Regions from separate parts of the Homo sapiens genome. Here regions 1 and 2 are each linked to region 3. The links come from fine-mapping of genetic effects on gene expression. A gene starts in region 3. Each other region holds a variant in brackets. All regions are shown on one strand. Distances are between the middles of the regions.

What was found.
Region 1: its variant is fine-mapped to the expression of NOL3 in whole blood (TOPMed, PIP above 0.99).
Region 2: its variant is fine-mapped to the expression of NOL3 in whole blood (TOPMed, PIP 0.99).

What each region holds. Positions count from the first base shown.
Region 1 is chr16:68,003,106-68,014,136 of GRCh38, forward strand. It overlaps DPEP2NB (DPEP2 neighbor), which reads right to left. Exons shown (of 2, transcript NM_001282442.2): 2 at 10,331-11,031. The coding sequence ends at 11,003. It also overlaps the pseudogene KARS1P3. Among named protein-coding and RNA genes, the nearest start is that of DPEP2NB, 7.3 kb to the right of the region's middle. RefSeq lists an enhancer at 3,481-4,254. The variant G/C (reference allele first, on the strand shown) is at 4,953.
Region 2 is chr16:67,569,035-67,580,065 of GRCh38, forward strand. CTCF (CCCTC-binding factor) reads left to right here. Exons shown (of 12, transcript NM_006565.4): 2 at 2,114-2,230. Among named protein-coding and RNA genes, the nearest start is that of CTCF, 12 kb to the left of the region's middle. The variant C/T (reference allele first, on the strand shown) is at 6,163.
Region 3 is chr16:67,166,694-67,174,916 of GRCh38, forward strand. NOL3 (nucleolar protein 3) reads left to right here and starts at 3,845. Exons shown (of 4, transcript NM_001276309.3): 1 at 3,845-3,881; 2 at 7,469-7,771; 3 at 7,928-8,223. The coding sequence starts at 7,477. It overlaps HSF4 (heat shock transcription factor 4), which reads left to right. Exons shown (of 13, transcript NM_001374675.1): 7 at 427-529; 8 at 782-906; 9 at 1,027-1,254; 10 at 2,138-2,243; 11 at 2,343-2,408; 12 at 2,586-2,655; 13 at 2,938-3,248. The coding sequence ends at 3,092. RefSeq lists enhancers at 2,902-2,951, 3,442-3,591, 6,812-7,734 and silencers at 3,802-4,091, 5,732-5,895, 7,632-7,891.

The DNA.
Region 1 (11,031 bases), 840 kb after region 3:
ATTTTACGTCAAATCAATTCCTTCATTCCAGAACTGGAATGCAATTTCATAAACCTGGTCAATGCCACCAACCACTAGCATCTTATGGTAGAGTTCTAGAGTAGTTCATGTGCAGCTTGTTGTGATAAGTGATGAAAGGCTTGGTCATAGCTCCCCTGGGATGACGTTCATTCATGGGAGTTTCAAGCTCTAGGAATCCCAGCTCATCCAAGAAACTTTTTTTTTTTTTTTGAGATGGAGTTTTCTTGTTGCTCAGGCTGGAGTATAGTGGTGCAATCTTGGCTTACTGCAACCTCCACCTCCTGGGTTCAAGTAATTCTGCTTCAGCCTCCTGAGTAGCTAGGATTATAGGCACCTGCCACCACGCCCATCTAATTTTTGTATTTTTAGTAGAGGTGGGGTTTTACCATGTCGTCCAGACTGGTCTCGAACTCCTGACCTCAGGCAATCTGCCTGCCTTGGCCTCCCAAAGTGCTGGGATTACAGGCGTGAGCCACTGCACCTGGCCTAAGAAACTTATTATACATGTGATGATCTTACAGCAGATGATAAATTTCTGCCTCATTCATTCAGGATCAAGTCCAAGTATCTCTGACCATACCTTATTTCCTTGTCTTTGAGGCCAAAGTGAAGATGAGGTAACATATACAAGCAAGGCCACAGCAGTGTGATCTCATAGGGAATGAAGCTCAGCTCATCCTTCTTGGTTTTTCCCAGGATTCCTCTGAATTCCAATTATGTTTCCCCAACGCAGTTTGTTATTAATATGAATAAATTATTCTTCCTGAAATTATAATTCCTGAAATTGGCCATGACTTGCAACTTGACCCCCTCTGCTCAAAGATCATAGAAGTTCATGGCTGGGCACTGTGTCTCACGCCTATAATCCCAGCACTTTGGGAGGCCAAGGCAGGCAGGCAGATCACCTGAGGTTGGGAGTTCGAGATCAGCCTGACCAACATGGAGAAACCTCACCTCTACTAAAAATACAAAATTAGCCGGGCGTGGTGGCGCACGCCTGTAATCCCAGCTACTAGGGAGGCTGAGGCAGGAGAATTGCTTAAACCTAGGGAGGAGGAGGTTGCAGTGAGCTGAGATTGTGCCATTGCATTCCAGCCTGGGCAACAATAGTGAAATTCCATCTCAAAAAAAAAAAAAAAAAGATCATAGAAGTTCAGCTTTCCTCCAAAAGCTTTTTTGGCATGGATCCTATCTGTCACGTTTAAGGTGATATCAGTCAGGAGATCCCCAGTTTGCAGGTGACAATATTCTGGGATGAAGTCAGTGAGGGAGATGTCTACATGGATCTCGTTGGGGTATGGGTCTTTCCCATTGACCTACCTGACTGCAAATCTTTTTTTTTTTTTTTTTTTTTGAGACAGAGTCTCGCTCTGTTGCCCAGGCTGGAGTGCAGTGGCTCAATCTCAGCTCACTGCAACCTCCACCTCCCAGATTCAAGCGATTCTCCTACCTCAGCCTCCCAAGTAGCTGGAATTACAGGCATGTGCCACCATGCCCAGCTAATTTTTGTATTTTTAGTAGAGATGGGGTTTCATCATGTTGGCCAGGCTGGCCTCGAACCCCTGACTTCAAGTGATCTGCCTGCCTCAGCCTCCCAAAGTGCTAGGATTACAGGAGTGAACCACCGGGCCTGGCCTTGGCTGTGGATCTTGTAGTACTGATTTGGGTCCAGGCTCTCCTCCTCAGGACCCACACCATTGTCAGTGGTATGGTTGGTGGCAGCAGCAGTGACCTGGGCTTAGCTGTTTCTCACTGAGCTCTTACTGCTTGGCTGCCTTCTCTGCCACTTTCTTCTCGGCTTTCAGGTATCTCTTCGGCTTGTTCTTGCTCAGTTTTGACTCACCACCATCCACTTTAACCTTGGCCCCTTGTACTGCAGTCATCTTCCCAGAGGGCCTGGACCCAAAATTGTGTTTTTTTTCTTTTTCTTTTTTTTTTGAGATGAAGTCTTGCTCTGTTGCTCAGGCTGGAGTGCAGTGGCGCAATCTCGGCTCGCTGCAACTTCTGCCTCCAGGGTTCAAGGGATTCTCATACCTCATCCTCCAGAGTAACCAGGAATACAGGCACCCACCACCACTCCCAGCTAAATATTCACATTTTTAGTAGCGATGGGGTTTTGTCATGTTGTCCAGGCTGGTCTCGAACTCCGGGCCTCAAGTGATCCTCCCACATCAGCCTCCCAAAGTACTGGAATATAGGCATGAGCCGCTGTGCCTGGCCCTGTTTTTTGTTTTTTTCACGTGGCCGTGTAGTTAAGGAACCAGCCTTATCGTGTGGGTAAGAAAATTGAGCAGCTGGTCAGATGAGGGGTTCCTTCAATCCCTCCACTTCCAGCTGCTGCCTCTAGGAAAGGCCTCAAATTCCTTACCTCAGCTTCCTGGGATTACAGGCGCACGCCACCATGCCTGGCTAATTTTTTTATTTTTAGTAGAGACAGGGGTTTCTCCATGTTGGCCAGGCTGGTCTCAAACTCATGACCTCAAGGGATCTGCCCACCTCAGTCTCCCAGAGTGCTAGGATTACAGGCGTGAGCCACTGTGCCCAGCCTCAAATTCCTTACATCTATCAGTTTGTCCGGGCATCATTTCCTGATCACCCACTGGTGCTGGCCATTTGCTGGGGTGTGCAGTGAGGTGGCTGGATAAGTCTCCAGCTATCACATGTGCTGGCATAAGCACATGGGGGTGGAGGGTGGGCTCTGTAGAGGCCCCCAAGATCCAGGAGCCAGTGCTGACCAAACATCTAGACAACATGTGTGATTTCACATTTAACCTCAAATTCAGACTTGCTGTCTCTTGCTTAACCTTGTCTGCTGATCTCCGAGGGCTATCAGACCTGTTTCTGCAAAAACACAGTGAAGTCACAGCACACCCTGCCCCGGAGCTCTCTAAGCTTCCTGTTTTTATGCAGAAAGCCTGCCCTCCTGTGAAGCTGACCATGTGAGATCTCACTGACTCCGCATCTGGGTGAATCTGAGAAGCTTAGTTAAAAACAACAACACAAAACTTTTTTTTTGAAACTGTATCTCCCTCTGTGGCCTAGGCTGGAGTGCAGTGGTGCCGTCATGGCTCACTGTAGCCTCAAATTCGGGGCTCAGGTGATCCTCTCACCTCAGCTTCCCGAGTAGCAGGGACTACAGGGTGGTGCCACCACACCCAGCTAATTTTTTTTTTTTTTTTGGTAGAGATGGGATTTCACCATGTTGCCAGGCTGGTCTCAAACCCCTGGTCTCAAGTGATCCTCCCACCTTAGCCTCCCACAGTGTTGGGATTACAGGCATGAGCCACTGTGCCCAGACCAAAAAACTTTTTATAGGAAAAATTGCAAATACATGAGAAAGGAGAGAGAAAAGTGTATTAACTCCCATGTAGCCATCACCCAGTTTCAAAGATTACCAACTGATGGCTCATCTTATTTCATTTATGCTCTCACTCACCTCTTTCTACAGATTATTTTAAAGCAAATCATAGACATCTATTTCATCCATTTTTAAGTATGCCTCTCTAAAAGGTAAGGGCTCTTTTTAGGCTGGGCACGTGGCTCTTGCCTGAAATCACAGCACTTTGGAAGCTTGAGGTGGGTGGATCACCTGAGGTCAGGAGTTGGAGACCAGCCTGGCTAACATAGCGAACCCCATCTCTGCTAAAAATACAAAAATTAGCTGGTTGTCGTGGAGGACACCTATAATCCCAGCTACTCAGGAGTCTGAGACAGGAGAACTGCTTGAACCCAGGAGGCAGAGATTGCAGTGAGCTGAGATCATGCCACTGTACTCCAGCCTGGGCAGCAGAGAAAGACTCAGTCTCTAAATAAATAAATAAATAAATGGTAATGGCTGTTTTTAAAAGACAACTATAAGCCAGGTGCACTGGGCCATTCCTGTAGTCCTACTAGCTATTTGGGAGGCTGAAACAGGAGGATTGCTTGAGCCCAGGAGTTTGAGGCCAGCCTGGGCAGCATACTAAAACCCTGTTTCTGAAAAATAAAATAAAATAAATAAATATATAAATAAATGGCAATTACCATACCATTATGACCCTTATAAAAGTTAACAGTACTTTTCTTTTAAAATTTGTAGAGACAGGGTCTTTTTTTTTTGAGACAGAGTCTCCCTCTGTTGCCCAGGCTGGAGCGCAGTGGGGTGATGTCGGCTCACTGCAAACTCCGCCTCCTGCGTTCACGCCATTCTCCTGCCTCGCCTTCCGAGTAGCTGGGACTACAGGCACCCGCCACCATGCCCAGCTAATTTTTTTGTATTTTCAGTAGAGACGGGGTTTCACCATGTTAGCCAGGATGGTCTCGATCTCCTAACCTCGTGATCCACCCGCCTCGGCCTCCCAAAGTGCTGGGATTACAGGCATGAGCCACCGCGCCTGGCCGAGACAGGGTCCTGTTTTATTCCCCAGGCTGGTGACGAACTCCTGGGCTCAAGCAGTCCTCCCTCTTTGGCCTCCCAAAGTGCTGTGATTACAGGCATGAGCCACCACACCCAGCCACTTTTTTTTTTTTTTTTGAGATGGAGTCTCGCTCTGTCGCCCAGGTTGGAGTGCAGTGGCGCCATCTCGGCTCACTGCAAGCTCCGCCTCTCGGGTTTATGCCATTCTCCTGCCTCAGCCTCCCGAGTAGCTGGGACTACAGGTGTCTGCCACCACGCCTGGCTAATTTTTTGTATTTTTAGTAGAGATGGGGTTTCACCATGTTAGCCAGGATGGTCTCAATCTCCTGACCTTGTGATCCACCCGCCTCGGCCTCCCCAAAGTGCTGGGATTACAGGTGTGAGCCACCACGCCCGGCCTTTTTTTTTTTTTTTTTTTGAGACGGAGTTTTGTTTTTGTTGCCCAGGCTGGAGTGCAATGGCGTGGTCTTGGCTCTCTGCAACTTCTACCTCCCAGGTTCAAGGGATTCTTCTGCCTCAGCCTCCCAAGTAGCTG[G/C]GATTACAGGCACGCATTAACACACCTGGCTAATTTTTTTGTATTTTTAGTAGTGACGGGGTTTCATTATGTTGGTCAAGCTGGTCTTGAATTCCTGACTTCATGTCATCCGCCCACCTCTGCCTCCCAAAGTGCTGGGATTACAGGCATGAGCCACCGTGCCCAGCCCAATTCTTTAGTATCATAAATTATCTATCATGTTCAAATTTATCTGATTGTCCAATTTTTAAATAATTCATTGGTTTGAACTGTAATGGAGCTCAGACCGCCCACATTGTAAATGGTTGTTATGACTCAATCTTCAGGTTCTTCTTTTTTTTGTCTTCCTTGCAATTTCTTTGTTGAAAAAATCACGTCCTTGTCCGTTAGAGTTTTCCATGTTGTAGAGTTTTCTGATTGCATCTCATGGTGTCATTTAACATGTTCCTGTGTCCTTGTGTTTTCTATAAACTGGTAGTTAAGGCAAGCTTTTATTTATTTAAAATTTTTTTTTCTAATTCTTTACTGTTAATATTTTTTGTAGAGATGGAGTGCTGCTGTGTTGCCCAGGCTGGTCTCGAACTCTTGGGCTCAAGCAATCCTCCCACCTCAGCCTCCCAAAGTGCTGGGATTACAGCCATGAGCCACCATGGCCAGCTGAGGGGAAGCTTTTAATACTGTGGATTTCTAGGCCAGTACCCTAAAACTTTAGACTGGTGTGGGTGCTGGGGATCACTTTTTTTTTTTTAAGACCGAGTCTCGCTCTGTCACCCAGGCTGGAGTGCAATGGCGCGATCTCAGCTCACTGCAAGCTCCGCCTCCCGGGTTCATGCCATTTTCCTGCCTCAGCTTCCCGCGTAGCTGGGACTACAGGCACCCACCACCACACCTGGCTAATTTTTTTTTTTTTTTTGTATTTTTTAGTAGAGACGGAGTTTCACCGTGTTAGCCAGGATGGTCTCGATCTCCTGACCTCGTGATCTCCCCGCCTTGGCCTCCCAAAGTGCTGGGATTACAGGTGTGAGCCACTGCGCCTGGCCGGGATCACTCTTTTTTAAGAGCCCCAGTTGAGTCTATTTGTTTCAGCTTTGGGAACTGCCAAACTATCCAGGCCATCCAGGAACCACAAATCTGCTTCAGTCACGCCACGGATGAGAGACTCTGGGGGTTAATGGAGACTCTCACAGGGAACTTTCTGGGAGCCCAGGGCCTGTGCCTCCTTCCTTTAACCCAAGTTAGGAAAACCTATCAGGACCTTTCCTGGCCTCCATGGTATGCGTGTTGGGGGGAGGAGCAACAGTCTTGCTGCTGGGACCCCTAAGGACAAGTGAGTTGCTGACAGTGCCGCCTTTTTCTGGGCTGCTGATACAGGCAGACTTGGGACAAACGTCATGGTGTTTCTTCTCTGCTGACTGCTCCTCCATCCCCCAGTCCCCAGCACCAGCTGTCCCAGCTGCAGAGAGAGACAGTCCCCCTGGTAACAGCCAGCACCTCACTACCATGGCACGCAGCAGTCAGACGGATCTTTTTAGCATCTATATCAGATTACTTCCCTACCTTATTCAGATTCCTCCATGACTTCCCAATATACTTAAAACAAGATCCACTGTCCTTACCGTGGCTGGCACGGCCCACTATGGTCTGGCCCATGCTTACTTGCTTACTTCCTTACTTCTCCAACCACCTTTTTCTTTTCTTTCTTTTTTTTTTTGAGACAAGTCTCACTCTTGTCCCTCAGGCTTGAGTGCAATGGCTCGATCTCGGCTCACTGCAGCCTTCGCCTCCCGGGTTCAAATGATTCTCCTGCCTCTGCCTCCCAAGTAGCTGGGATTAAGGCGCCTGCCACCACACCCAGCTAATTTTTGTATTTTTTAGTAGAGACAGGGTTTCACCATGTTGGCCAGGCTAGTCTCGAACTCCTGACCTCAGGTGATCCACTAGCCTCAGCCTCCCAAATTGCTGGAATTACAGGAGTGAGCCACTGCACCTGGCCTCCAACCATCTTATTTTTTTTTCCTTCCTTCCTTCCTTCCTTCCTTCCTTCCTTCCTTCCTTCCTTCCTTCCTTCCTTCCTTCCATCTTTCCTTCCTTCCTTCCTTCCTTTCTTTCTTTCTGACAGAGTCTCACTCGTTGCCTAGGCTGGAGTGCAGTGGCAGGATCATGGCTCGTTGCAGCCTATACCTCCTAGGCTCAAGCAATCCTCCTGCCTCAGCCTCCTGAGTAGCTAGGGACCACAGGCATTCACCACCACACCCAGCTGATTTTTTGATTTTTTGTAGAAAGGGCACCTCCCTATGTTGCCAGGCTGGTCTCAAACTCCTGGGCTCAAGTGACCCTCCCTCCTTGGCCTCCCAGCCACCACATCTTTCAATCTCCTCTATCTTTCTTCCCTGGCCACACTGGCCTTTCTGCTGGCCCTCAAATTGGTCAGTCTTGTAGGCCGGGTGTGTTGGCTCACACCTGTAATCCTAGCACCCTGGGAGGCCAACGCTGGCGGATTACCTGAGGTCTGCAGTTTAAGACCAGCCTGGCAAACATAGTGAAACCCCATCTCTACTAAAAACACAAAAATTAGCCGAGTGTAGTGGCATGTGCCTCTAGTCCCAGCTACTCAGGAGGCTGAGGCAGGAGAATCACTTGAACCTGAGAGGCAGAGGTTGCAACGAGCCAAGGTCGCACCATTGTACGCCATCCTGGGAGACAAAGTGAGACCCCACCTCAAAAAAAGAAAAAATGGATCAGTCTCATTCTTACCATTATACTTGAAATTTCCTCCAGTAATGCTCTCCCTTCTACTCCTCACGATTCCCTCACATCTCAGCCACAATGTCATCATCTCAGAGAAGCCTTCCCTAACCACCTGGTGTAACACAGCACACCTCATTACTGTATTCTCTTATCCAGTTTCATTTTTCTTTATACCAGTTATAGTTATCTAAAATTATATTGTTTGGGGAGGCTGAGGCAGGACAATGGCGTGAACCCAGGAGGCAGAGCTTGCAGTGAGCCTAGATCGCGCCACTCCAGACTGGGTGACAGAGCGAGACTCCGTCTCAAGAAAAACAACTACAACAACAACAACAAAAATTATATTGTTTGTCTCTATGAACAAATTATATTGTTTGTGGGTGCCTTGAGGGGAGGAGTTTCTCATTCACCAATATATCCCAAGCAACCAGCACAGTGGCTGGTATGTAAGAAGTGCTCAATAGGCCGGGTGCGGTGGCTTATGTCTGTAATCCCAGCACTTTGGTGGGTGGATCGCCTGAGGTTACGAGTTCGAGACCAGCCTGACCGATATGGTGAATCCCATCTCTACTAAAAATACAAAAATTAGCCGGGTGTGGGGGTGTGCCCCTGTAGTCCCGGCTACTCAGGAGGCTGAGGCAGGAGAATCGCTTGAACTCGGAAGGCGGAGGCTGCAGTGAGCCGAGATCGTGCCACTGCACTCTAGCCTGGGCAACAGGAGAGAAAACTCTGTGTCAAACAAAAAAAAAAAGTGCCCAATAAATACTTGTTGAATAAATGAATGAATGGATGAGTGGATAGATGGAGCAGCATCTTCTTAGTTATTTTGTCCCTCTCCTAACACTCTCTAAAACACACACACACACACGGAAACACTCACTGGGCTCTACATTTTTTTAGCTTTTCTTTTTTTCTTTCTTTTTTGAGACAGGGTCTCGTTGTGTCACCCAGTCACCCAGACTGCTGAAATGCAGTGGTATGATCATAGCTTACTGCAGCCTTCAACTCCTGGCTTTAAGCGATCCTCACGCCTCAGCCCCCCAGATGGCTAGGACTATAGGTGCACCCCACCATACCTAACTAATTATTTTTATTTTTGTAGAGACAGGATCTCACTACTTGCCCAAGCTCGTCTTGAACTCCTGGCTTCAAGCAATTCTCCCATCTTGGCCTCCCAAAGTATTGGGATTACAGATGTGAGCCACTGTGGCCGGCCAGGCTCTGCGTTTCTTTTTTAAATTTTTATTTATTTGGGAGGCTGAGGCAGATGGGTCACTTGAGCCCAGGAGTTCAAGACCAGCCTGGACAACACGGCAAGACCCCATCTTTTTTTTTTTTTTTTTTGAGATGGAGTGTCGCTCTGTCGCCTAGGCTGGAGTGCAGTGGCGTGATCTTGGCTTACTGCAAGCTCCGCCTCCCGGGTTCATGCCATTCTCCTGCCTCAGCCTCTCAAGTAGCTGAGACTACAGGTGCCTGCCACCACAACTGACTAATTTTTTGTATTTTTAGGAGAGACGGGGTTTCACTGTGTTAGTCAGGATGGTCTTGATCTCCTGACCTTGTGATCCGCCCGCCTCTGCCTCCCAAAGTGTTGGGATTACAGGTGTGAGCCACAGCGCCTGGCCTTTTTTTTTTTATTTTTTTTTAGACAGAGTTTCACTCTTGTTGCCCAGATTGGAGTGCAGTGGCATGATCTCGGCTCACTGCAACCTTTGCCTCCCAGGTTCAAGTGATTCTCCTGCCTGAGGTTCCTGAGTAGCTGGGATTACAAGTGCCCACCACCATGACCAGTTAAGTTTTTGTATTTTTTTTTTTGTTTTGATACGGATGTCGCCCAGGCTTTAGTGCAGTGGCACTATCTCGGCTCACCACAAGCTCTGCCTCCCGGGTTCATGCCATTCTCCTGCCTCAGCCTCCCGAGTAGCTGGGACTACAGGCACCCGCCACCACGCCTGGCTAATTTTTTGTATTTTTTAGTAGAGATGGGGTTTCACCATGTTAGGATGGTCGCAATCTCCTGACCTCGTGATCCGCCCACCTCGGCCTCCCAAAGTGCTGGGATTACAGGCGTGAGCCACCACGCCTGGCCAATTTTTTGTATTTTTAGTAAGATGGGGTTTCATTGTGCTGGCCAGGCTGGTCTCAAACTTCTGACCTTAGGTGATCCACTGCCTCAGCGTCCCAAAGTGCAGGGATTACAGGACTGAGCCACTGTGCCTGGCCGAGACCCCATCTAAGAGAGAGAGAGAAAAGAGGAAGAAGAAGGAGGAGAAGGAGAAGGAGAAGAAGAAGAAAGAAGGAAGAAGGAAGAAGAATAAGAAGAGGAGGAAGAAAGAGGCTGGGTATGGTGGCTCATGCCTATAATCCCAGAACTTTGGGAGGCCAACGCGGGCAGATCTTGAGGTCAGGAGATCAAGACCATCCTGGCCAACATGGTGAAACCCCGTCTCTGCTAAAAATACAAAAATTGGCTGGGTGTGGTGGCGGGCGCCTGTAGTCCCAGCTACCAGGGAGGCTGAGGCAGGAGAATGGCGTGAACCCAGGAGGTGGAGCTTGCAGGGAGCCGAGATAGTGCCACTGCACGCCAGCCTGGGTGACAGAGTGAGACTCCGTCAAAAAAGAAAAAAAAAAAAGATGATCAAGTCAAATACTGTTATGGAAAAATAATTTTTTTAATTTTTTTTTAAATTGAGCAGTAGGGACCTCACTGGGGCCATAATGGGCAGGAAATAAAGTAACATGTGAGCTTCAGGGGGATGTTGCTCAACTTCCTCCTTATTGTTCTTGCTGTAGGTGGCAGGTCTCCCCAGGTCTCTTTCTTCTACCTCCTGAGATGCCAAGCAGGAGGCTTTCTCCTGCTGTGACTAGCCATGGGCTGCTGCTTCCAGTTTCAGCAAGTCCTGGCCCTCCTGGTTTGTGCTGGTAGTTGCTGGCAGTGACTCAAAGCAAAGACCCATCTGGTAGATCAAGCCCTTACTGGGCTATGCTGCACTCCCTCTCTGCACTTGACTCCTCGGCTAGCAGAGTGCAGACTATTTCTATCTTCTGCCCAAAAAGGGACTCTGGAGAGATGAGTAGAGGAACATCAGGTTTTCTTCCAGGCCGTCTTCAGCCTTGGGATGTTCAAAGCAACCTCTCATTTTAAACCACAGTTTCTGAGGCTCCTTGGCCATGGGTAGTTAGCATGGAAGGGGGCTTCTGGATGAGGAAGGCATAGGCAGAATGACTCAGGCTCTATCTGCAGTGGTGGGCAGGGGAGGTCACCGCAGAAGAGGCATTAGCTGTCTTAGACAGCTAAACATTTGTCCTTTCTCCCAAATGGCTCAGCCAGCAAGCTTCTGTGGGGTCAGTC
Region 2 (11,031 bases), 400 kb after region 3:
TCCACTATGTTGGTCAGGCTGGTCTTGAACTCCTGACCTTGTGATCCGCCTGCCTTGGCTTCCCAAAGTGCTGGGATTACAGGCGTGAACCACTGTGCCTGGCCTATTTGGAAACACTTAGTTCAAATTTAGCTCTTTATTTCATTTGGGATTTTATTTTATTCTTTTTTTGAGACAGAGTCTCACTCTGTCGCCAGGCTGGAGTGCAGTGGCACGATCTTGGCTCATTGCAGCTCCGCCTCCTGGGTTCAAACGATTCTCCTGCCTCAGCCTCCTGAGTAGCTGGGTTTACAGGCCTGCACCACCATGCCCAGCTAATTTTTGTATTTTTAGTAGAGACGGGGTTTCACTATGTTGGCCAGGATGGTCTCAATCTCTTGACCTCGTGATCCGCCCGCTTTGGCCTCCCAAAGTGCTGGGATTACAGGTGTGAGCCATTGTGCCTGGCCTGGGATTTTCTTTCTTTCTTTCTTTCTTTTTCTTTAGAGGTAGGTTCCACTCTACCTTTGCTTGAAGCTTGACAGTTCATTTTGTAATTTAGGGTGAAAAGATGCCATCTAACAAAGTATTCCGTTATTCGACTAAAAAAACTGTTTCATTGCTATGCTTCTAGGATTTTCAAAGGTCAGTAAAAGCTCCTTTTGCCAGTTATCTTTTTTTTTTTTTAATGAGACGGAGTCTAGCTCTGTCGCCCAGGCTGGAGTGCAGTGGCGCGATCTCGGCTCATTCCAACCTCCGGCTCCTGGGTTCAGGCGATTCTCCTGCCTCAGCCTCCTGAATAGCTGGGATTACAGGCGTGTGCCACCACGCCTGGCTAATTTTTGTATTTTTAGTAGAGATGGGGTTTCGCCATGTTGGTCAGGCTGTTCTCAAACTCCTGACCTCAGGTGATCCACCTGCCTTGGCTTCCCCAGTTATCTTACTAAACTGGAAAGCATAGCCTTTACTTGTGGCATGAACAAACTTAATCAGTAAGACCACTACTTGCTAAAGATACGGAAATAAACTGTTAGAGAGCCATTACTGCAGCCATAAGAATTAATTTTTTTTTTTTTTTTTTGAGACGGAGTCTCGCTGTGTTGCCCAGGCTGGAATGCAGTGGCAGGATCTCGGCTCACTGCAAGCTCCGCCTCCCGGGTTCATGCCATTCTCCTGCCTCAGTCTCCTGAGTAGCTGGGACTACAGGCACCCGCCACCACACCCGGCTAATTTTTTTCTTTGTATTTTTAGTAGAGACGGGGTCTCACGTGTTAGCCAGGATGGTCTTGATCTGCTGACCTCGTGATCTGTCTGCCTCGGCCTCCCAAAGTGCTGGGATTACAGGCGTAAGCCACTGCGCCCAGCCAATAATTAATTTTTTGGTAGTTTGAATATGTGTGCCATTATTTGGTTGCAATATTGCAGTGGAGTGTTTTGTTTTGTTTTTTTTTTTGAGACGGAGTCTCGCTCTGTCGCCCAGGCTGGAGTGCCGTGGTGCGATCTCGGCTCACTGCATGCTCTGCCTCCCAGGTTTGCACCATTCTCAGCCTCCCAAGTAGCTGGTACTACAGGCGCCTGCCACCACACCCGGCTAATTTTTTGTATTTTTAGTACAGACGGGGTTTCACCATGTTAGCCAGGCTGGTCTCGATCTCCTGACCTCGTGATCTGCCCGCCTTGGCCTCCCAAAGTGCTGGGATTACAGGCATGAGCCACCGCGCCTGGCCTTTTTTTTTTTTTTTTTTTTTGAGACAAGATCTCTCACTCTGTCAAGCAGGCTGGAATGCAGTGGCACAATCTCAGCTCAGTACAGCCTCAAACTCCTGGGTGAGTCTCCCACCCTGGCTTCCGAAAGCGTTAAGATTACTGGTGTGAGCCTGGAGTACTATTTTGCTACTTAGAAACCTTTAGTCCTTTATATATTTAGCAAATGTGTGAAAAAATAAATGAATGTTTTGTTATTGGCTTGATGGTGGACATTTATGGAATGGCTCGGTTAGTGACATGACATGAACAGGTGTTTTGTTTCTTTCCCAATTTTTTCTGTCTTCAGTTTTCCCTCATTTTTTTTCATACTATATGCGTATTTGTATGAATTTAGTGTTTCATAAAATGATTTGTGCTTTTCTTTTAGAATGATTACGGACCTGAAGCCAAAGAACAAGATGCGCTAGTGGACAGATTGCTGACCAGGGGCTTGAGAGCTGGGTTCTATTTTCCCTCCTCAAACTGACTTTGCAGCCACGGAGAGGTAAGTGCTATTTCCATTTTTTCTATCTTAAAAATGGTAGTAATATAACCCTCCTGGAGTTGGAGGATTTGTTGGCTAATTCTTGAATATAGGGGATGCAGGATATCAGGTGATTGAGAGCATACAGGCTTCATAATCAGAGTCCTGGGTTTGAAACTCTTTACGATGATATACTAGCTGGGTAATATGGGGCAAGTTACTTTAACCTGTCTACTCCTGTAGTCCTCACTTGTGAGAGAATAACACCACCAATCTCAGAGACTATTCTCCGTTAATGAGAATGTGTTTTGTAAAGCTTTAAGTACTATTCTGAACATGTACATAGAAAGATCCCAGGAAATTGTGGCTGCTTTTCTGTAGAAACCCTTGGAATGTGTATTTTGACTATTGGCAAATGAACTGAAAAGAAAGTCCATGACCTGTGGCTACTTGTAATTTTGATAAGAAACAGATGGAATCCTGTTCTTGGGGAACCTGGTATCCTGGATAAAAATTGTCTTAATTTGAGTTAGCCTAGCTCATTGCCCATTTTGCGTCAGAGTGTGACAGTGATTATCATTTTAATTTAGCCTGTAATTTTTGCTATAAAATATAATGGACATTATATGGAACTTGGAACAGACCTTCTATAAATATTGGAATCTACTATGCTTTGGGATCTCATAAACAACAAAGTGGGATTCTGGTTGTAAAAATTATCTCTTCTCACGGTACCGGAAAGCACATTTTTTTCAGACCCTAGAAAAATGTGAAAATAATTTAATCGTACATGTGTAATGGCAAAAAGGAATGTAGAAGTGGAAATTACAAATGCCAGGATTAGATAAGCTTATGTGAATGAATCATCTAAATGACTACTAAGATTTTTCTTACAAGCTCTGCCTGGAGCAAATAAAGAGAAGGGAATAGGAATGAAAGTTCTGTTATTCTTCAAACCTTTATTTTCCAAATGGGCAACTTGTTATCCTGCTAGATGGGAAGGAGAAGGTCTGTGGTAGTATTCTGTCACTCCAAAAATAACTTACGCCCTGCAGGTTCTTTTAGGAGTGTTGACACAGAGTGCATACCAAAAGTTGCTGATTTAAAAACTATTGAGAAATCGAACCTTTAAGAGTTTAGGGAATGGGTTTATAGGAACACGTTAATCACTTTCAAGTGTTATGACTAGCTTAATTGCTTAGATCCCTGTTTCTCAAACTGGGATATGAATACCCTTAGGGAATCAGGTGGTATGATTTCGGGGTACTTGGAGTCACAAGAAAGATAAACATGACCCATCTTCCTAGAACTTCAGTTATAGTCATAGAGGAGGTGGTGAGTTAAGTAATTTAACTGGTCAGTGATTAAATATTAAATATTGGCCAGGCACGGTAGCTCACACCCAGTACATTGGAAGGCCAAGGCCTCCAAAATCCCAGTAATCCTAGTACTTTGGGAGGCCAAGGCAGGTAGATCACTTGAGGTCAGGAGTTCCAGACCAGCCTGGCCAACATGGTAAAACCCCATCTCTACTAAAAATATAAAAACTAGCCGAGTGTGGTGGTGGGTGCCTGTAATCCCAGCTACTTGGGAGGCTGAGGCAGGAAAATCGCTTAAACCTGGGAAGCAGAGGTTGCAGTGAGCCAGGATTGTGTCACTGCACTCCACCCTGGGCGACAGAGTGACTCTGTCTGCCCCCCCCCGCCCCCCCCCCCAAAACAACAAAAGACTGGGCGCGGTGGCTCACGCCTGTAATCCCAGAACTTTGGGAGGCTGAGGTGGGCGGATCACAAGGTCAGGAGTTCGGGACCAGCCTGGCCAACATGGTGAAACCCCGTCTCTACTAAAAATACAAAAAATTAGCTGGGTGTAGTGGCGGGAACCTGTAATGCCAGTTTCTCGGGAGGCTGAGGCAGAAGAATTGTTTGAACCTGGGAGGCGGAGGTTGCAATGAGTTGAAATCACTGCACTCCAGCCCAGGCAACAGAGTGAGACTCTGTCTCAAAAAAACAACAAAAAAAACCCCAAGAAGACAATTAGCTGGGTGTGGTGGTGCGTGCCTGTAATCCCAACTACTCGGGAGGCTGAGGCAGGAGAATCACCTGAACCAGGAGGCAGGCAGAGGTTGCAGTGAGCCAAGATCACACCACTGCACTCCAGACTGGGTGACAGAGCAAGACCGTCTCAAAAAATAAATAAATAAATAAATATTAAATATTGTTATATTAAAACAAATAGACATTTTTGGAGCAGAATGAAAACTGTATGATTAAGATAACATAGGTCTTCAACAAAATGAGCATGAGTGCCTGAGGGTGGGAAGTTCTCTCTGTATAGGTTCTATAGTGGATATGTTTGAGAAGCAATACATTTGAGCTATAGAACAGCTCTGCTATCCTGCTCCTTACTTTGTCCTTGTAGTATTTGTGTAGGGAAAAACTCTCAAGCCCAGGTTTTTCCTTTGCTTTCACATAACAACCACCATCAACACAAAAGAAGACTTACGTGGCTGGGCCCAGTGGCTCATGCCTGTAATCCTAGCACTTTGGGAGGCCAAGGTGGGCAGATTGCAAGTCCAAGAGATTGAGACCATCCTGACCAACATGGTGAAATCCCATCTCTACTAAAAATACAAAATTTAGCCGGGCGTTGTGGTGCGTGCCTGTAGTTCCAGTTACTGGGGAGGCTGAGGCAGGAGAATCGCTTGAACCCGGGAGGCGGAAGTTGCAGTGAGCCGAGATCATGCCACTGTACTCTGGCTTGGCGACAAGGCGAGACTCCATCTCAAAAAAAAAAAGACTTACGTGACCAAAGATGGGGTGGAGGGATTTTCCTCACACACCAAACAGTGTATGCCAACTAGGTGTCATCCAACACCATCTACCCAAGATGGTGTCAGATCCCACACGTTTAGGGTTCAGTCCCATAAGACCACCTGTCCTTCCTACCAGTCACAAGCCCATTCCTTCAGAGCTTCTGACCAACTGGCTTCAAGTTGAGTTTCCCACGACCTCTTTCTTGGGTTCCATTAGTTTGCTAAAGCAGTTCACAGACCTCAAGGAAACACTTCTTTAGATTTGCCAGTTTGTTAAGAGGACTACTTTATTTATTTATTTTTGAGACAATCTCACTGTGTCGCCCAGGCTGGAGTGCAGTGGCGTGATCTCGGCTCACTGCAACTTCCCCCTCCCAGGTTCAAGCAGTTCTCCTGCCTCAGTCTCCCGAGTAGCTGGGATTACAGGCGTTCACCCCCACGCCTGGCTAATTTTGGTATTTTTAGTAGAGATGGGGTTTTGCCATGTTGGCCAGGCTGGTCTCAAACTCCTGACCTCAGGTGATCCACCCAGTTCGGCCTCCCAAAGTGCTGGGATTACAGGCATGAACCACCACGCCCAGCCAAAAGCATCTTTTTTTTTTTTTTTTTTTTTTTTTTGAGATGGAGTCTTGCTCTGTTGCCCAGGCTGAAGTGCAGTGGTGCAATCTTGGCTCACTGCAAGCTCCGCATCCCAGGTTCACACCATTCTCCTGCCTCGGCCTCCCAAGTAGCTGAGACTACATGCGCCCACCACCACACCCAGCTAATTTTTGTATTTTTAGCAGAGACAGAGTTTCACCTTGTCAGCCAGGATGGTCTTGATCTCCTGACCTCTTGATCTGCCTGCCTCGGCCTCCCAAAGTGCTGGGATTACAGGCGTGAGCCACTGCGCCCAGCCAAAAGCATCTATTCTTAACTGTGTGTTTTACAATTACTAAGTATTGTTATTAACATATTGCTCTTAACATAAGTGGCATTTAAGAATTACATTTTTTCCATATGTCCTTGTGGATAGAGGAAAAAAAAAGAATTACATTTTCTTTAGTCACGCGTTGTGTTGCATGCCTGTAGTCCTAGCTATTCAGGAGGCTGAGGCCGGAGGATCGTCTGAGCTGAGAAGGTTGAGGTTGCAATGAGC[C/T]GTGGTCCCACCACTGCATTTCATTCAGCCTGGGTGACAGAGTAAGACCCTGTCTCAATAAACAAATAAGTAAGTAAGAATTAAGTTTTCTGAGGCTGGGCGTGGTGGCTCATGCTTATAATCCCAGCACTTTGGGAGGATGAATTTTATTTTAATCCCATTAGGACTCCAAGTCCTGGCCATGCAGCTTAATAGCTATATGGCCTTGGGCAGGGCAGTTCTATTAGAGGTGACTTCCTTGGGCTTCCCTTTCCTCTTTTTTTTTGAGAGATGGAGTCTCGCTCTGTCGCCAGGCTGGAGTGCAGTGGTGCAATCTCGGCTCACTGCAGCCTCTGCTTCCCGGGTTCAACCGATTCTCCTGCCTCAGCCTCCTGAATAGCTAGGACTACAGGTGCGCCACCATGTCTAGCTAATTTTTGTATTTTTAGTAGAGACGGGGTTTCACCATATTGGCTGGGCTGGTCTCAAACTCCTGACCTCAGGTGATCCGCCCACCTTGGCCTCCCAAAGTGCTGGGATTACAAGCGTGAGCCACCGCGCCCAGCCAAGTTGGTTATTGTATATATTTTGCATTAAACTGAACTTCGATGACCACCAGATAATACAAATGTTAATGAACTAAACGGAAATATTGTGCCATAGGAAAATGGGTTAGATTTATCAGAAAATCTGTTGAGCAGTAGAGAAGTGGGTAAGAAAACAAGGTCTCGTTGCATGTTGCAAGGGATATAAAACCCTAACCCATTTAAAAAGATGAATGTCAGCCTGGGCAACTTAGTGAGACCTTGTCTGTAAAAAAAAAAAAAAAAAAAAATGTAGCCAGGTGTGGTGGTGCACACCTGTAGTCTCAGCTACTTGGGAGGCTGAGATGGGAGGATCACCTGAGCCCAGGAGGTTAAGGCTGCATGCACTCTAGCCTGGGTGACAGAGTGAGACCCTGTCTTAAAAAAAAAAAAAAAAAAAAAACGGAAGGCTGTTAACCAGCAAAATGCTTATGAGAGAGGTTTTTTAATAGCATAATACCAAAAAGTTAATTATTATGGAATAAAAGTAAAGAAAATCCCAAACTAAAACCTGGCGTATAGCAGAAGCTCAATAAGTAATTATTTGGATGAATGAATGCCTAGGGAAAAAAGACTAAACAGACGTGGAAATCATCAGTCAAAACTAGTAGTGTGAGGGTAGTTTGGTTTGGGGGTCACTTTTTGTTGGTTTTGTATAGTTTGTGTAATTTTTTTTAATGCAAATACTTTTTTTCTTTTCTTAGATTAAAGCAGAATTACCAAAATCTGGCTATAAAAATATTTAACAATAGGTGACTGGTTAAATTATGATACATCCCTATAATAGAATGTTTTTTTTTTTTTTTTTTTTTGAGATGGTGTCTCCCTCTGTCACCTAGGCTGGAGTGCAGTGGCACGATCTCTGCTCACTGCAAACTCCGCCTCCCGGCTTCACACCATTCTCTTGCCTCAGCCTCCTGAGTAGCTAGAACCGCTAATTTTTTGTGTTTTTAGTAGAGATGGGGTTTCACCATGTTAGCCAGGATGGTCTGGATCTCCTGACCTCGTAATCCGCCTGCCTCTGCCTCCGAAAGTGCTGGGATTACAGGCGTGAGCCACCGTGCCTGGCCTTATAATAGAATGTTGTGTAGCCATTATGTATAAAAAATATGTTGAAATGGCAAGATATTTGAAACAAAGTACAAAGAAAGCAGATTATCAAACAATATGTATGGTATGATCTCGTGAGAGTAAGTATATGTATATATTGGGGAGGGGACTGCGAATTTGGATATAAGCCAGAATGTGTGTATAAAACCTATAGGTAGGTTTCTTTAAGCTTTCTCCTGTTGCCTGTATTGCATAATTTTTAAAGGAAAAGGGAATGCAGTACAGTAGGAAGTAGCACTGAAACTTTCTGATAAAGGTAATGAAATGGGCCGGGCGTGGTGGCTCACACCTGTAATCCCAGCACTTCGGGAGGCCGAGGTGGGCGGATCACGAGGTCAGGAGATCGACACCATCCTGGCTAACACAGTGAAACCCCGTTTCTACTAAAAATACAAAAATTAGCCAGGCATGGTGGCGGGCGCCTGTAGTCCCAGCTACTTGAGGAGGTTGAGGTGGGAGAATGGTGTGAACCTGGGAGGCTCTGTCTCAAAAAAAAAAAAAAAAAGGATAATGAAATGATAAAAGGTGTTTTTGCCTAGTTTACTTGGCAGTAATGTCTAGACTTCTTTTTTTTTTTTTATTTTTTGAGATGGAGTCTCGCTCTGTTGCCCAGGCTGGAGTGCAGTGGTGCGATATTGGCTCACTGCAAGCTCCGCCTCCCGGGTTCATGTCATTCCCCCGCCTCAGCCTCCTGAGTAGCTGGGACTACAGGCGCCTGCCACCACGCCTGCCTAATTTTTTTTTTTGTATTTTTTTTAGTAGAGACGGGATTTCACTGTGTTAGCCAGGATGGTCTCATCATCTCCTGACCTTGTGATCCGTCCACCTCGGCCTCCCAAAGTGCTGGGATTACAGGCGTGAGCCACCGCTCCCAGCCAGTCTAGACTTCTTGAGTGGAATCGAGAGGGCCACTGGAACAGTTATAGAAGTGCAGCCAGGAGGAGAGTAAGGCAGGAGGAAGCTCCTGCATCTGCCCAGCTGTTAGAGGGGATTGAGGTTGCAGAGGCAGTTCTTGCAGTGATCCTCACTTAAATTTGGTCTTAAACTTTGTTTAAATATTACCCAAGTAATGTTTAGTTTCATTCTTTGGAAGAGTCTAATGATTGTAGAATTACATTAGAACCTAAAGAATCCCTTAACTTTGTTTTCCCAGAGCTGAAGACTATTAATAGTCTGGTGTGTTGACTTTGCACTTTTATTAACAGGCATGTACATATAATACAACTTTTTAAACAAAATATAATTGTGCTATGGAAATTTTCTGTAACCACCACATTTAATGTAAGAACATGAGGGGGAAATACTTCAAACAGTGCAAAATGTTAATAATGAAAAGTAATCCTCAGTCTTGCCTCTGATCTCTCATTTTTCTTCCTCAGAGGCAATAAATACCAATTTCTGATGTATCCATCCAAAGAAAATTCTGCGTATATTCAAATGTATGAGTTTATGTATCTTTTTTTTTTTTTTTTTTTTTTTTTGAGACAGGGTTTTCACTCTGTTGCCCAGGCTGGAGTGAGACACGTGATCTTGGCTCACTGCAACCTCTACCTCCTGAGTTGAAGTGATTCTTGTGCCTCAGCCTCCCAAGTAGCTGAGATTACACACATGTGCGGCCATGCCCAGCGAATTTTTGTAGTTTTAGTAGAGATGGGATTTCACCGTGTTGGCCAGGCTGGTCTCGAACTCCTGGCCTCAAGTGTTCCACCCACCTCGGCCTCCCAAATTGCTGTGATTACAAGCATGAGCCAATGTGCCTGGCCAAGTTTATGTATCTTTTTAAAAAAGCACAAATAGGCCGGGCATGGTGTCTCACGCCTGTAATCTCAGCATTTTGGGAGGCCGAGGCAGGCGGATCACCTGAGGTCAGGAATTCGAGACCAGCCTGGCCAACATGGTGAAACCCCATCTCTACTAAAAATACAAAAATTAGCTGGGCGTGGTGGCAGGCGCCTGTAATCTCAGCTACTCAGGTGGCTGAGGCAGGAGAATCGCTTCAACCCGGGAAGTGGAGGTTGCAGTGAGCCGAGATTGCACCATTGCACTCCAGCCTGGGGGACAAGAGCAAGACTTCGTCTCAAAAATAAATAAATAAAAATAAAAGGCCGGGCGTGGTGGCTCACGCCTGTAATCCCAGCACTTTGGGAGGCCAAGGTGCGTGGATCACCTGAGGTCAGGAGTTCAAGACCAGCCTGACCAACATGGTGAAACCCCATCTCTACTAAAAATACAAAAATTAGCGGAGTGTGGTGGCACACGCCTGTAATCTCAGCTACTCGGGAGGCTGAGGCAGGAGAATCGCTTGAACCTGGGAGGTGGAGGTTGCAGTGAGCCGAGATCGCCATTGCACTCCAGCCTGGGCAACAAGAGTGAAACTCCGTCTCAAAATAAATAAATAAATAATAAAAATAAAAAATAAAGCACAAATAGTAGCTTACTATACACGTTGTTCTAGACGTTTGAGTTGTTTTCAATCTTTGTTTTTTTTTGTTTTTTTTTTATTTGAGACGGAGTCTTGCTGCTCTGTCACCTAGGCTGGAGTGCAGTGCCGTGATCTCGGCTCACTGCAATCCTTGCTTCTCAGGTTTAAGCGATTCTCTTGTCTCAGCCTCCCGAGTAGCTGGGATTATGGGCACATGCCACCATGCCCGGCTAATTTTTGTATTTTTAGTAGATACAGGGTTTCGTCATGTTGGCCAGGCTGGTCTCAAACTCCTGACCTCAGGTGATCCACCTGCCTCGGCCTCCCAATTGCCCTGGCCTCCCAACTGCCCAGGCTTCCTGAAGTGCTGGGATTACAGGTATGAGCCACCACGCCCAGCTTGTTTTTAATCTTTTGCCATTAGAGAAAAATACCCTAGTAGTAGATAGCCTTCTTATATACACATCTTTAGGCTCGTGTACTAGTGTAAACATAGAGAATTGCTTGTATATTCCTAGAAGAGGGAATGGCATGTACAAAGGCCCAGAGGCAGGAAAGGAAAGACCTAGAATGTTCTGGCTACTGAAAGAAGTTCAGTGTGATTAGAGGCGAGTATGTCAGGCTGGATGCAGATCTGCTGATAGGGCCCTGAAGCACTTGGTAGGCCATGTGAAAGAGTTTGGACTTTAAGAGTTTTCAGCATGGTGGTTTCAGAAGGGAAGTCTTCTTGCTGATAATGGATTTACATTTTAGAAATCCGTGGCCGCTGTGTGA
Region 3 (8,223 bases):
TCTCCTCTGGAAACTCCTTCACCGGGAATCCTCATTCCTCCCCCTGCGCTACAGGCTTCCTCACCCCATCTAGGATCCACTTCCCCCCAACTCTGCCACCTGGTATCCCCACTCCCAGATCCTCCCATTCCAGGACCTTATTCCCAAATTCCTACCCCAGCAGCCCCTTCCCCCTCCGGCAAGGCTTCCCAACAGCTGAGACCCTGGGGCTCAAACCAGGTTCCCTCCCTCCCCTCTCTACCCACAAAGGGCCCCCATCTCTAGGGGGAGCCCCTTCCACCTCCAGCATGTGACTGACACCCTAGCAACAGGCCTCAGCTCTGCTGACTTGGCTGCTGGGGCCTGAGGGAGGGAGGGAAGTGCAGGCCGAGGTGCATGGGGGCTGACCCTGCCCCACCCCTGCCTGTGCCCTGATCGACCACACAGGTCCCTGATGCTGGATGAGGGGAGCTCATGCCCAACACCTGCCAAGTTCAACACCTGCCCTCTACCTGGTGCCCTTCTGCAGGACCCCTACTTCATCCAGTCGGTAGGTTTGTCTTCTTCCCCCTTCCCAAGGGCATGGCTGGGCTTATGGAGAGCCTGTTCCTTCTCCCCATCCCCTAAAAGGAAGAGAAGATGGAAGCCAGCCTTCCCCCCAACCAGACCCAGGCCCTCCAGCATGGACTGAGCCTCCTCCCTCAAACCTTCTCCCTTAGACCTGGCCCAGGTGGGTGTTGGTGGGGTTCTGGCTCTCCCTGTGCCTACAGGCCAAGGGCTGGGCCTAGCCTTCTACTTACAGCCTCTCCCAGAGACAAATTTGGGCCTTAGCCCTCACAGGGCCAGGGGCCCCATCATCTCTGACATCCCAGAAGACTCTCCATCCCCTGAGGGGACCAGGCTTTCTCCCTCCAGTGATGGCAGGAGGTAAGGGGGACAGGGCTGCCCCTGAGGGGCCTGTGGGGGAGGGCCTGGCAGCCCAGATGGCTGTAGGGGTAGAGGGAGAAGTCAGTGCCAGGGTCTGGTTGAAGCTTTTCTCTGGTGCAGGGAGAAGGGCCTGGCACTGCTCAAAGAAGAGCCGGCCAGTCCAGGGGGGGATGGCGAGGCCGGGCTGGCCCTGGCCCCAAACGAGTGTGACTTCTGCGTGACAGCCCCCCCGCCACTGCCTGTGGCTGTGGTGCAGGCCATCCTGGAAGGGAAAGGGAGCTTCAGCCCCGAGGGGCCCAGGAATGCCCAACAGCCTGAACCAGGGGATCCCAGGGAGATACCTGACAGGTGAGCAGAGCCCCAGCTGGCCCATGAGCCCTGTGATAGAACAGCCCTTACCAGCCCACAAAGCTTCCTAGCCATTTGACTCCATGATACTCACCTGATTTCTTGGCCCCAGCATCAGAGTTCTGTGGAAAGCAGAGCCTCCCAGTCAGGGCACTCAGCATCTGCGGAAGGGCTTAGGAACCTACATATGAAATGAGTTCCCTGGGGTGACTGCAAAGTACACAATAGTTTAAGAAGCATTGGTGGCTATGAGGTGGCTCATGCATGTAATCCCAGCACTTTGGGAGGCTGAGGCGGGCAGATCACTTGAGGTCAGGAGTTCAACACCAGCCTGGCCAACATGGTGAAACCCCCCGCCTCTGCTAAAAATACAAAAATTAGCTGGGTGTGGTGGCGTTTGCCTGTAGTCCCAGCTACTCAGGAGGCTGAGGCAGGACAGTCGCTTGAACTTGGGAGGTGGAGGCTGCAGTTAGCCAAGACAGTGCCATAGTGACATAGTGGGTGACATAGTGAAACTGTCTCCAAAAAAAAGAAAAGAAAGAAAGAAGGAAAGAGAGAGAGAGAGAGAAAGAAAAAAGAAAGGAAGAAAGAAAGAAATAAAGAAAGAAGAGAAAGAAGCATGGATATTGATACTTGCATAGGGAGGGGAAGGGTCCCAAAGCCCCAGCTCCACCACCCAAACTTCAGGTCCCAGGTAGGAAGCAGAGGCACTTTCTCTGTGCCATTTATGGCAGGAGTGGGGAGGTTGGGGGTGGAGAGAGGATGGGGATCCTCTCCTATCATTTTCTAAAGATTGGGGGATTAAAATCTTGATGCATCTGGGTTCCTTGGGAACTTAATGCGGGGTGGACACTGCAGGCCAAAAGCAGTTCTGTCTGCACAGGGGGCCTCTGGGCCTGGAAAGCGGGGACAGGAGCCCAGAGAGTCTGCTGCCTCCGATGCTGCTTCAGCCCCCTCAAGAAAGTGTGGAACCTGCAGGGCCTCTAGATGTGAGTACCCCTTCTGCTGAAACAGGGGCATGAGACCTGGTGGGGTCTAGCTCTCTGTGGAGCCTGGGGAGGGCACCACTGACCCAGAGCTCTCCTCAGGTGCTGGGCCCCAGTCTCCAAGGGCGAGAATGGACCCTGATGGACTTGGACATGGAGCTGTCCTTGGTAAGAAGTGGGTCGGGGAGGGCAGAGGCCAGGGGTGGCTGAGTCAAGCCCTCTGGTCCATAGCTGTTCTCTGTGAGCCAAAGCCGTGTCTCTAGAAGAATTGTCACAGTGATTTCCCAGCTGTCCCCCTCAGCTGCTAGGTCCCCTCCCCAGCTGCTCCCTGCGGTTCTCACGCAGATGCAGCCCTTGGTTCCAGAGCGGGGTGAGCCTGAGCTGGCGGTCAAGGGGTTAAATTCTCCAAGCCCAGGTAATGGTTGTGATGACTCCTACCTGGGAGGACGCCGTGATTGGGCTGAGCTACCTTGATTGAGTGAGGGGGCAATCTGCAATTTGCAGGGAAATCCTGAGTTCAGGCTGCACTGCAGAGCGTTCCTTGAGCCACCCATGCCCTCACCATTGGGCGAGAGTGGGGAGGTTAAGAATGGATGTTTTATCCTAACTGAGCAGAAGGCAGGCGGGCAGGGCTCTCCTTCCCTGAAGAAAGGAGGGGGAACATTTCCCCTGGTGAGCGCAGTCCCACTTCTCCTAGGGAAGGACCCCACGCTCGGGGCCCCACTCCTGCTGGATGTCCAGGCGGCCTTGGGAGGCCCAGCCCTGGGCCTGCCTGGGGCTTTAACCATTTATAGCACTCCTGAGAGCCGGACTGCCTCCTACTTGGGCCCGGAAGCCAGTCCCTCCCCCTAAGACCCCGCGCCTCTGAAGGGGCTTGGAACCAGTCCGCCGCTGCACATCCTTCTTGGCTTCCTGGCGCCCCCTATCGGGGGTGAGCGAAGCCCCCACTACTAAATGGCCTCTCTCCACTACCCCGACTATCCCTGCACATAAACTCCGTTTTTTTTTTTTCTGTTTCTGGTCTCTTTTCTCTATCGACCAGGGAGCACAGGAGTTATGGGTGGGGGGTGATTTTGCATTTGTAGAAGCGTCCAGATACTAGGTTTTTAATAGAGGAACCCCAGGAGGGTGGAGGTGCTTGGGGATCCGGTGCCTAGCTCCCTTGCTTAGGCCCGGGTCCAGGGCTGGCGCGGGGCCGCTGCAATCTCTGGGAAGCGGGGGCTTCTGGGTCGCGCTCAGCTCTGCAATGCATGCGTTCTGTGATCCTGGTGAGTTGGTATCCTTCTCTGAACTTCCTCTGTGACAGGCAGAGAAGAGGGGTCGATGACAAGATAGATGGAAAGCACCTGGAAATTGGCAGGCCCTGAGTGGGCGCTGGACGTGTGGGGCCGCGGGCCGAACTGCCCCCTCCTGGCCTCATCTCCTGGTGCGCCCCGGGTGGGGAGGGAAAGCTGACTACATGCACGTCCCCAGCCAGCGCGCGGCCTCCGCGGTGTGGCTCCTAGTGCCCGGGGAAGAACCCTCACCCTCCCTATTCCCAGCAGCCCTGGCCGCCCCGCCCCCGCCGCAGCTGCTGCACCCACCCCCACCCTGCCCGGCCCTTTCTGCACCGTCATCTCCTGCCCCGCCGAGGCTTGACCCGTGAGTGGGGACGCCCAAAACGGGCCAGACCGGGAGCCCCACTCCCGGCTGTGGGAGGGAAGGGAAACCGAGATTGGGCAGAATCAGCGCCCCACCACCCGCTGCGGCGCTCGGGGGTCGGGGGGGCGGGGTGGGTAGGACTGTGGGCCCCGCCCTGCCGCAGGACTCTCAAGCTCTGGGACTGGGTGGAGGGAGGTAAGGGGCGGGGGGGGAAAATCCGTGCAGTCGCACATGCGCAAAGGCTCTTCACTGTCCCAAGACCCTGGCTTCCTGGCCAAAGAGCCCGCGCAGCGAGGTGGGGTTGGGGGCTGGGACCCAGCTCCGTGCCCCGCCACCTGGCTCTCTGGGAAGAATCGGACCTGTCACCCTCGAAGGACTGGCCGCTAAATAACTTCGGTATTGAGAGCTGTGTGAGCCTCAAAGGGAGGGCCCAGACCAGCTGGAGTCTCTACCCCCAGACAGGATAAAGGGCAGGACTTGGGGTCATAGGAGGAGGCGGCTAACATGAAAACAACTTAGGTTGGAGAGAAGGAGGGGCCAATCCAATCTGCACCCTCCCTGTGTCTGTCCCGAGTAGGTGCTGTCCCCCTCTCCCTTCCTTTGCCCACCGATTGGAGGGACACTCTGGAAAACTCAGTTGAAGAAAGCGGAGAGTCTGCGTGTACACAGTGCAATGATGTCAGTTAATGCACTAGTGAGGGCATGTGTTGTTCACGGTACACAGAAGAAGGAACCACCAGCCCTTGGGACACTTAGGCATTGGTGTAGACAAGGGAACATTTGAGTCCTGGACGATGGATAGGTCCACGGAGCGGAGGGAGGAGAAAAGGATTCCAGTCTTAGCGATCAGCATCAGCAAAGGCTCCGAGGTGCCAGAGGCATAGTGAGTTCTCCGATCCCTGGCTGGTGGAGGGAAGCTGGGAAGGGCCTGGCTGTCCAGGGTGGTGGGAGGAGGCTAGAGTAGCCAGACCAGATATTTTGGGTTGTCTCTGATGGGCAGTGGGGTGTGGGGGGGAGGTAGATAGGTATTTAGGATGGAATTCTGCTAGACAGGAAAATATAGTTCAGTTCCTCATAGTTCAGGCTGGAGCAAGTAAGATTCCAGTTTTACCACTGAATCTCTGAGCCTGTCTCCTCATCTGTAAAATGGGAACAGCAATCCTAGCCCAGAGGGTTGTCAAAGTCACTGTGCTATCGGGCCTGGCAGAATGGGAGTGAGAGGGGCTCAGAGGGACTGTTACAGGACATGAGGTGACGATGGTGGGGTGGCAAGGCAGGAGCTGATGGAGACTCACTGAGAAGTGGAGAAGCAAGATTCATCACATACGGGACATAAAGGGAGATGGAGGGGCAGGGGGTAGTCCTGGTCTCGGCCTGGTGGGGAAGGGCTTCAATGGGAGGAAGCCAGGGTGTGAAGTGACGGGGGAGGTATAGTGTGACACCAGAGGGTACTGAGAAAGACCTGGGAGGCAGGATGGCGGCTAGGACTAAATCCTCTCTCCCAGAGAAGGCCGAGCCTCCTAGAGCCAGAGAAGGAGGCAGAGGAGGGACAGCAAAGGGAAGAAGAGATGGGAGGATGCCGTGTGAACAAAGCCAAGGCGGGGAGGAGAAGAAGTTATTATCAGGGTGGGGGTGGGCTGAGGGCATGGTTCAAGGCCTGATGTCTTTGCCTCCTAATGCCGGGGGTCTTGCTGGCTGGGTCAGGCCACTCACAGGAATGGGCCATAATCCTTGGTTGACAATAAATGGACAAAGCAGCTGGGTGCGGTGGCTCATGCCTGTAATCCCAACACTTTGGGAGGCCAAGGTGGGTGGATCACGAGGTCAGGAGTTCGAGACCAGCCTAGCCAACATAGTGAAACCCCGTCTCAACTAAAAACACAAAAAATTAGCTGAGCGTGGTGCGGGCACCTGTAATCTCAGCTACTCGGGAGGCTGAGGCAGAAGAATCGCTTGAACTCAGGAGGCAGAGGTTGCAGTGATGAGAGAATGTGCCACTGCACTCCAGCCTGGGCAACAGAGTGAGACTCTGTCAAAAAAAAAAAAAAAAAATGGATAAAGCAGATTGACTCTCCCTAATAGCCGCTGTTGGTAGAGATAGTCTCTCAAGAGCCAGGCATGGTGGTTCACATGGTGGTTCACAAAGTGCTGGTAATCCCAGCACTTTGGAAGGCTGAGATGGGAGGATTGCTTGAGGCCAGCAGTTCGAGACCAGCCTGATCAATATAGCAAGACCAGGACAGGCGCGGTGGCTCACGCCTGTAATCCCAGCACTTTGGGAGGCCAAGGCAGGTGGATCACGAGGTCAGGAGTTCAAGACCAGCCTGGCCAACATAGTGAAACCCCGTCTCCACTAAAATAAATAAATACAAAAAATATATATAGCAAGACCCCACCTCTAAAAAAAAAAAAAAAAAAAAAGGCTGGGCACGAGAATCACTTGAGCCTGGGAGGCGGAGGTTGCAGTGAGCCAAGATTGCGCCACTGCACTCCAGCTTGGGCAACAGCGAGACTCCATCTCAAAAAAAAAAAAAAAAAAGTCTCTCAAAATAGTGCGATCCATGGAGGAAAATCAGTCCAAGTTCGGCAAGTATTTGTCGGTATCCTGTATGAGCTAGGCCTTGGGTACTTCAAGATCAAACAACAAATGTCTGTAGGTAATTCCCAGGTCAGCAGGGAGCCAGGTGGGTCAGCAGAGAGACAGTCACATTAGGAGTTAGGGCTTCAGTAGGGAGACAGGTGGGTCTCAGGTGATGTCAAGAGATCTTGGTCAGAGCTAGGCCTGAAGAAGATTCTGGTATCTCTGCTCAGGAATCAGGGGACCAGGAAGGGCCAGGAGACTACATTGGGGTTGCACTATGGTGGTGGTGTTGGTGGGAGGGTGTAGAGGCGGGGCTTGTCCTGGAAAGTTGGATATCAGGGTCAAGGTAAGGGGAGAGGGGCAGGGAGGCTCTCAGCACTTTGTGCTCTGGGTTCAGAGGGGACTGGAGGATAGAGTATGGAAGCAGGGAGCTCTGATCCTGGGTTCTGCAGGGCCAAAGCAGGAGGCAGAAGGCTGGACTTAGTAAGTGGTGAGGATGGTGAGAGAAATATTCAGCAGTCAGACTGGAAAGGACTTGTCTGCAAGCTGGGTGTGGAGTATCAGCATCAATCCTAGGTTTTTCTGCCTGGTTAGGTGGGGAAGCAGATTTGAGAGAAAGACCTTAGTTTGGATAAACGGGGTCTGAACTCGCCTCGGATTTGCCGGGGGTGGAGCTCAGGACGTCCTGGTTGGGGAGGGCATTCAGAGAGTAGATGCCAGTCCTGGGAAAGGCAGGGGAGGAGAGGAGAGCCACGGCTGACGCTTGGGGACAGAAGGAGGAGCCTGAGGAGGAGACAGGACAGAGCGTCTGGAGAGGCAGGAGGACACCGAGTTCCCCGTGTTGGCCTCCAGGTCCTGTGCTTGCGGAGCCGTCCGGCGGCTGGGATCGAGGTGAACTTAAACCCCAGCCTGGGTGTTCACTGGGGGCATTGAGGGAGTGGTCAGAGGCGGCGAGGGCAGCGGGGAGGGCAACCCCCCATTACTTCTCTCCCCTTTCCCCATGCAGCCCCGACAATGGGCAACGCGCAGGAGCGGCCGTCAGAGACTATCGACCGCGAGCGGAAACGCCTGGTCGAGACGCTGCAGGCGGACTCGGGACTGCTGTTGGACGCGCTGCTGGCGCGGGGCGTGCTCACCGGGCCAGAGTACGAGGCATTGGATGCACTGCCTGATGCCGAGCGCAGGGTGCGCCGCCTACTGCTGCTGGTGCAGGGCAAGGGCGAGGCCGCCTGCCAGGAGCTGCTACGCTGTGCCCAGCGTACCGCGGGCGCGCCGGACCCCGCTTGGGACTGGCAGCACGTGGGTCCGGGTGAGCGCGCGGGGCGGGGCCTAGGGCAGAGCAGGGACGGGGCTGGGGCAGACAAAAGGCCCGGGGAGGGCAGGGTTGTCGTCTCCGCTAGAAGTAGGCGAGTGTGAAACCGCACAGGGGTAAATTGAGCCTCAGTCACTCCCACTTCCGCCCCAGGCTACCGGGACCGCAGCTATGACCCTCCATGCCCAGGCCACTGGACGCCGGAGGCACCCGGCTCGGGGACCACATGCCCCGGGTTGCCCAGAGCTTCAGACCCTGACGAGGCCGGGGGCCCTGAGGGCTCCGAGGCGGTGCAATCCGGGACCCCGGAGGAGCCAGAGCCAGAGCTGGAAGCTGAGGCCTCTAAAGAGGCTGAACCGGAGCCGGAGCCAGAGCCAGAGCTGGAACCCGAGGCTGAAGCAGAACCAGAGCCGGAACTGGAGCCAGAACCGGACCCAGAGCCCGAGCCC